Linked DNA regions of Homo sapiens. The protein of the gene in region 2 purifies or fractionates together with the protein of the main gene of each other region. This does not show direct contact. Each region holds a gene or a part of one and is shown on either strand. Other genes may lie near its edges.

Region 1 (3,671 bases), on a different chromosome or scaffold from region 2:
TCTGCACTTTCAGCCGGATGCTGATGGACATCACCTTCCTGCCACCCATCAGGGCACTGCATTGATAGTCCTGGCTCTGAATGAACTTGGCCCTGTGGATGGTGAAGCCATGCCAGGGCGAGAAGGAGTAGTTGGTGTGGCGCATGAGGGGCCGGCCACGCACACGCACCAGCGAGACGCCTGCTTCCAGCACCGGGTCTGTGAGCAGACAGGGCAGTAGTGCGTCCTGGTCCTCGAACACGACCACCTCCTGTGCTAGCACGTTCCAGGGCCGGGCAGGGTCTAGAGTAGAGGAGGGCACAGGGTTACAACTGCCCTCCCTCCACTGGGCCAAGGAGTACCTGGACATAGGTGACAAGGAAGCTCAGAGAGGCTGATCATTCATCTGAGGTCACACCACGCCAGGACAGTTCAGCGGATGCTTCAGCGTGGTGGCTCCAGAGTCAGGCGCACCTGGGCTCCAGTCTAGTCCCACTATGTGAGGCTGTGTGACCTTGGATAACCTCCCTGCACTTCTAGAAAATGCATCATCATAGACCCGACTTGCAGGGTTGTTGTGAGGACTGCATTACATTAGCAGCTCTTCCAGGTCCTTGCTCATAGCCAGCACTCAGTAAATGCAGAGCTGAATTGTTACGATTGTTAATTTTAGGGCCCATTGTAGTGGGGCCTGCCGGGTCAGGCCTCTTGGGAGGAGGCTCAGACTCCTCACCTTTGACATAGAGGTGGATGGCGGCGCTGCCTCCCAGGGGGTCTCCAGGCTCAGTGCAGCGATAGGTCCCCGTGTTTTGGAAGGTAGCGTTGTTGGTGCTGAGGATGCTGCTGGAGCCATCAGAGTACAGGGTCCAGTGAGGTGATGGGGGGCCATCCCATTCCACGCTGCCATTGCCCACACATCGCAAGGTCACCGTTGCTCCTGGCTTCACGACCAGCTCAGGGACACTGGGCTCTATCACTGGGATTCCCTGACCTGGTGGGAGAGAGGGACAGCAGACAGAAGTGAGGTCTAGGATGCGCCCCTTGGGCCGTCCTGACTCTGAGATGGGTGGTAGCTTGGCAGGGATGGTGCTGTGCCATCAAGGGACCACCTTGAACGAGCCCCTGCCCCCTGGTCATTTGCTCAGCTCCTAACCCTCAACCTGCTCAGGGACAGACTGATGTCTCTGATGTCCAGGAGGTCCCTCCTCTGAGAAAGGGGGCTTGCAGCTTGCTCAGCCTCTCACCCAGGCCTCTGTCCCCCTGGGGTCCTCAGCCTCCTGCCTCAGTCTTCCCTGCTGTGATGCCATCTTTCTACTCCCCAGGAATGGACTCTTTTAACCCTGTGTACAAAGTGGACGTATTTCTACCACCGAATGAAGAAACAAATGAATGGAATGTTCACGGCCAAGTCCTCAGCTTAATTCATATGGGAAAGAAAAAAAAAGAGATGTAGGATCTTAGCCCAGCAGAGTTAGAGAGGTCCCAAGAATCTCCTGGTGTGCCCGCTCCCACCAATGGACATCTGGTCTGCAGCACAGTGGGATGGGGAGGTGCCATGCCTCAGTTTCCCCACCTATAAAACAGGGACAATCATCGTACCCACTCATTGGTATGTTAGGCATTTTAAATGCATGGGAAGACTTTAGAACATCACCTGTCACCAAATAAATGGCTCAGTAAGAGTTAGTCACTATGTTTATTACCTAGTCTACACCCAGCAGCTCACCCCGGCACCCCCACACATCTGTGTTTACTGGGAAGCCAATCTCTTTTAAGGAAAATTTTCTTGAAGGAGAAAAGAGAACTTGAAACCCCTATCAGGCTGTCCGGGAAGAAGGCCCGTTGCCTCTGCAGCGTCAGCATTTTTCCAGGGCCTAAAATAGGGGCAAAGGAGGGAAGTGAGAGCTGATTCAAGCCTCCGAGGGGCTGCCAGGCGCCCCCCAGCCTGTGTGGGCGGAAACACATTGTTGGCGTCAGGCTCAGCCCCCGGTTTCCGCTCAGCCTGTGGCCCTTCTACAGGGATGTTCTCACTTCTGCTTCCCCAGCCTCCTAGCCACTCTCCTCTCTCCAGGCAGGGAGAGGGAGTGCCACTTGCGGGGCAGCTGTGAGGCTGGGCTCTGACGCTGACCCACTGGCTGACCCTGGCCATCCAACTCCTCAGCTCTGGCCCTTCCTCTTCCCAGTGATGGGGGCACAATGACAGGCCAGCCCCGAGGGCTTTCGGTGAATTCAGGGTATCTCCATTGTTCTCTGCAAACCCCCTTGAAATGGAAATTCCCCCTGCCCCACCATAGAGCCCAGAATTGGAAAGGTTTCCTCTCTCAAGTCCTTTCAGGATGGCTTAATTCACGTTTTGATTTTGTATTCATCAGAATGTGCATCCCTTCTCCCCAAGACTCTGATCAGCAAACGAGATTGAGTGAATTGTGAATACTGCCAAGCCTGCCACCTGGGGTTGTAGCCCTCCTATGCAGTGCAACTGCCAGGAAGAGGGACAAGTGTCATTTCTAGCAGCCTTTTTAGCAAATCTCAACAGAGCTGGGGCTGCCCTATCACTGCTGCAGCAATCTAGGGCCCCCAGGCCGGGGTTTTATAGCAGGAAACAGCTTGGAGTGTGGGCTCACACCAACTTGGGTTTGGATCTTGGTTCTTCCCTTACCAGCTGGGTTAGTTTCTTAACCTCTTTGAGCCTCAGGCTATTCTTCTGTCTGATGGGAATAATCCCAGCTCCCACCCCAAAAACTTCAGCTGAAGGTTGAGTGAGATGATGTATAGAACTACTCCTGCCCTGGGCACCTGCTTTAATTGCTACATTTCTAATGTCCCTTCTGGGCCAACTCTGATCGCTCAAGATTTTAACCTTGGATTCTGTGATTCCATTTGTTCCTTTTTTACACCTGCCTCACACCTTACAGTGGGCTTCTCCCATCCCTTCCCCCAGCCTGTCTCTCTAGACCCTGCCTTGGCCTCCAGGAAATGTGGTCAGGGAGCGGTGTCTGCCCTATTTTGTCCTATCCTATTGTCCCAGGTATTCACGCAGGATAAGGCTGATACCCGCAACTTCCGCAGCCAACTTCCCCTGCTGGCTTGGCTAGCAGGGAAGGAAGCCGGCTTGGCCCCCATCCTCCTCGGGGTGGGGGCATGGGCTTATGAACATTAACTGAGGTCCCCTTCTGTGCCTGTCCATTCTTCCCCCCTCTCATCTCCACTCCCCAATTCTCCCCATGCCCCACACCTCTCCACTAGCTCCCACTTGCCTGGAAGCCCCTCCCTCATCACTTCCAGAATGTGCCCCAATCTCTACTCTTCTCTCCCAACACACACACACACACACACACACACACACACACACACACACACACACACACTGCACACTAAGGCTGGACACAGCCCCTCTTCAGCCCAGGATCTCATCGCAGTAATGAAGAGAGAGCCCCCCTCTCTCTCTAGGGTCCTCCAATACCATCCCCAGTCTCCTCACAGTGGCCCCTCATCCACTCATCATTGGTCTGTTGGGCTGAAAACTTAGGTTTCCAGCCTCCCCATCTCTTCTTTCTCTTGGGACTGGACCCTGGAAAACCATCTGGCCCCCCTCCCACACACCATGCCCCTGTGAAGGGAAAATAAAAACTTGGGACCCTAATTCACTCTGCCAAAAGGAAAAATCAAGCTGGAAACTGAGTCATGCAAGA
Region 2 (3,600 bases):
GGTGTGGGGAGGGCCACAGGGGACCTGCCCTTGTTGCCCTTGTTGATGATGGAAGCTCCTGTCCTGCCAGACATACACAGTGGCCGGACGTTAGAGCCCACATGCCAGGAACAAGGGACCATGCTGTCTGCTCTCCCCCACTGTGTGGGTGGAATGCCTGCTGTGCGCATCATCGGCTGGGGACAGGGCTGGGCAGGGGCGACAGGTGGCCCGGAGAGCACACATTGCCAGTTCCAAAGGGCTGGATTGATTCAGAGGGTCTGAGCTGAGCTGGCCACCCAGCAATGACCATCCCAAACTACCGAGGGCCTCCCAGGTGTGGGGCTCTTCATGTTGTACCTTGTCCCCTCCAGGCAACCAATGCTACTGCTCTTACAGGTCAGGAAGCCAAGCTCTGGAAGGTGCCACCTATGCCTAAGACCACCAGGCAGTCACCATGGTTCAAACCCCAGTCTCTGCCCCCAACTGCCCCAGTGCCCCCACACCCCTTCTCGTCAGATGCAGAGGAGAGATGCCAGCACTGCTTCTGAGGCTCTCCCTGATGACAGGGGGGACCACAGGTATCAATTATGGCCACAAGAAGCATAAAATTACTCTGTGTGCACCCAGCCATTATCCCCACCTGCCATTAGATAAATGTGTCTGGAGGTTCTGCCAAGTCTCAGGGTGCCCTGCTCCCCAGCCACTCCCAGATAACTAGGTTGGCCATTTCAGAAATCCTCTTCCAAAGGGTTCTGCCTCTGACCTCCCCAACCGCCTGCCATTGCTCTCAGCTACTCCCAAAGGCTCCCGGCAACGCCGTCCCTCCTTCCTTGGATTGGAGGGGGAGGGAGACAATCTCCCCAGGGAGGGGAGTCCCTGGCCCTTAGCCCCCGCCCCCTTCTAGGCCTACAGCCCACAGGAAGCTCTTACTAAATTCACATTCTCTCCCCAGTCCGATCTCCCTCAGGGGAAGCGGCTGTCCCCATTGGTTTCTGCACCATGGCCAAGGGCCATACTGCAGTCCCTGGCGCGACAGGCTTAGAGGAAAGAGCACAAGAGTCAGTGAGCCCGGGGTTCGAATCCCCGCCCCCCCTTCCTGAGCCAAGCAAGTGACTCAAGCCTGGTGCGCCTCGGGTCACACCCTGAAAAATGGGGTGACAGCCCTTCCCTGCCGGGAATGCAACGACAAGCCCTCAGCCCGGTGCGGGCCCCAGGAGGCTCTCAGATCCGGGCATCCTCAGGCCGCCTCCAGGGCTCACCGCCAAGGGCTCCAGTTCTAGGTCTCAGTTTCCCCAACAGCACAAGGCGCGGCTGGGCTCCAGCGCTGTGGGATTTTTCCAGCCCCGCACAGAGGCTGTCAGATCCCGGAGGGTGGGTGCGGCGGGAAAGGCAGGGGTGCGACGCGCAGGGGCGAGGGGCTGGAGACGCGCAGAGATCGGGTCGGGGCCGGGTCTGACACATGCGGGCTCCGGGTCCCCAGATCTGCTGCGGAGAGTCCTGGGCGCCGAGGGTCGGCCTGACGCCCCCAACCCAGGCGCTGCCAGAGCGGCGCAAGGGCGGCGCCCCCAGCTGCAAAGCCCCGCCTATCATCTCACCTCTGCGTGCCTAGGTCTGCTGGGGCCCCGGCCCTTCGCCCGGACCCCAGGCCCCCGCGCGGACCCTGACCGCTTTCTGCAGCCTGGAACAACCCGGACCCCCGTGAGAAGCAAAGAAGGGGCGCCTTCCAGACATCCTGGCGCAGCCACGCCGGCCGGCGCGCTGGGAAAGGATCCCCGGCCCGCGCCACTGAGCTACGCGCTCCGGGCGCAGGGCAGAGGGCTGCGCTCTGGCCCCTCGGGGCTGCAAAATCCTGGAGCAAAAGTTGGGTGGAGCCGCTGGGTGATTTTCCCCGGCGTTGCAGGTGCAGCCTCCGAATGCCACCCAGCCCTTGCGGCGCCGCGAGCCAGCGCGGGGACCCGTTGGTCCCTCGGTCCCCAGCACCCACCTGCACTCATCTCAGCAGCCGCTCGGAGTCGGGGCGGCCCGGCGCTGCGACAGCCAGACCCTCGGGCCCGCAGGTGCCGCGCCCGCGCTATCCTCCGCCCGCCCGCCGGCTCCGCGCCCGCTCCTTGCGCACACGCCAGGCAGCGCCGCCGCAGCCCCACGGCGCGCAGGCCACGCCCGTGCCACGCCCACTCTCACGCCCCTCCTGGCGGCCCCGCCCCGCGCCCCCGCTGCCGCCCGGGAGCACCCTGGGAAGTGTAGGCACCTCGACGCCACCGCTCCGCCTGGCTCCCCAGCTGCGGGGCGATCGGACTACAAGTCCCAGCACGCTTCGCGGCCAGCGCAGGCGCAGACGGGCGACGGCGGCTGAGGCCTTTCGCAATCGTTCTTAGATCTCTGCAGAGCTGTCGCCACGGCCTGAGGGGCGACGTGGGGACTGCCGCTCACGGAATCCGGGAGTCGCTAGGAGAGCGGCGCAGGGAAAAGCGAGCTTGGTGCAGCTCTTCTTGAGTAGTCGAGCTACAAGGCGCCTGAAGACCTTCTGGGCCAACTCTTCTTTACCAGTTTACAGAGAGGGAAACTGAGGCGGGGGCGGTGCTCGGGCAGGATTAGCCCGCATCCGTCGGCGAGGCTTGCACTGGTGGGGATTCGTGCGCAGGTTTCCTGCCTCCGGGCTTGGGCTGTCCGCGCCTCGCCACCCACCCCAGGCTCCCGTCGCTCCTCGCCGGCTGGCGCCCAGCTGGGGGGTGCACCGGGAGAGGTGGCGCGGCTCACTTCGGCGCAGTCCCCGGCCCCAGCCTCCACGGTGACCGGCTACCCTGTGACATCAGGCGCCCAGCACAGGGCCTGGACGCGGGTGCAGGAGAGGGAGTCAGGGAACGGGGAGGAGCAGGGGTCCCCACTGTGTGCCTGGTGCGACAAAAGGCGAGCTGCAGAGAGGTCGGGAGGAGCCGGCAAACACAAGGATGCCCACCAGGCGCGGAGGGCCTGGGCTGGAGGAGCATTTAGGATGCAGAATCGCGGGAACCTGGCATGGAGAGAGAGGCCAAGGACTTTTGGCTTGGGCCAGGGCTGTTTGGAGATGCTTTCAACAAGTGGAAGAAGATTGGGCACAGAAAATGTAGACTGAATGGAACACTGAGGCAGGAGCAGGTACTCCTCCCCCTCCCTCAGCAGCAGCCATCTCCCCCAAGAGGGGCCAGGATGGGAGGCCAGGAGTACAGTGGCTCAGTGGGGGAGCTGAAGTCCTGGGGAACCAGCCAAGCCCCACACACCCTAGAAATCCAGGAGGCCCAGCTAGGTGATTCTGCCCGCAGCCGCAGGGTTCCCATGCCAGTCCACTGGGATCTTGTGCCATGTAATTGAGGGGGCGCCAGATCTAAGGATCAGTGAACTAATGTGTGCCATGACCCAGTGTGAGTTGAGATCAATAAATGTCTTTGCTTTGCTATTATTATTCTCTGTGGCTAACATAGGGCCTGGCACAGAGCAGGCAGTCTGCAAATATCTGTTGAATAAACGGAGAGAAGGATAGAGGGGAGGGGAGAGTGCTGGCACCTGGCACTCCTGGATCATAGCCTGAGAGGTAGGCCAGGCACCCACCTGCCGTAGGTACACCCTGCTGCCACTTGCCCT

The links. Proteins that work in one complex are often made in the same cells at the same time.
Region 1: the proteins of ABLIM2 (region 2) and CSF1R fractionate together in Homo sapiens (co-fractionation; one large-scale study listed by BioGRID). This does not show direct contact.

Annotation. Positions count from the first base shown.
Region 1 is NC_000005.10:150,080,055-150,083,725, forward strand, and holds part of CSF1R (macrophage colony-stimulating factor 1 receptor isoform a precursor), read right to left. Parts: intron 971-3,671; coding exon 713-970; intron 283-712; coding exon 1-282. UniProt on the Homo sapiens protein: Tyrosine-protein kinase that acts as a cell-surface receptor for CSF1 and IL34 and plays an essential role in the regulation of survival, proliferation and differentiation of hematopoietic precursor cells, especially mononuclear phagocytes, such as macrophages and monocytes.
Region 2 is NC_000004.12:8,156,714-8,160,313, forward strand, and holds the start of ABLIM2 (actin-binding LIM protein 2), read right to left. Parts: upstream 2,101-3,600; 5' UTR 1,977-2,100; coding exon 1,967-1,976; intron 1-1,966. UniProt on the Homo sapiens protein: May act as scaffold protein. May stimulate ABRA activity and ABRA-dependent SRF transcriptional activity.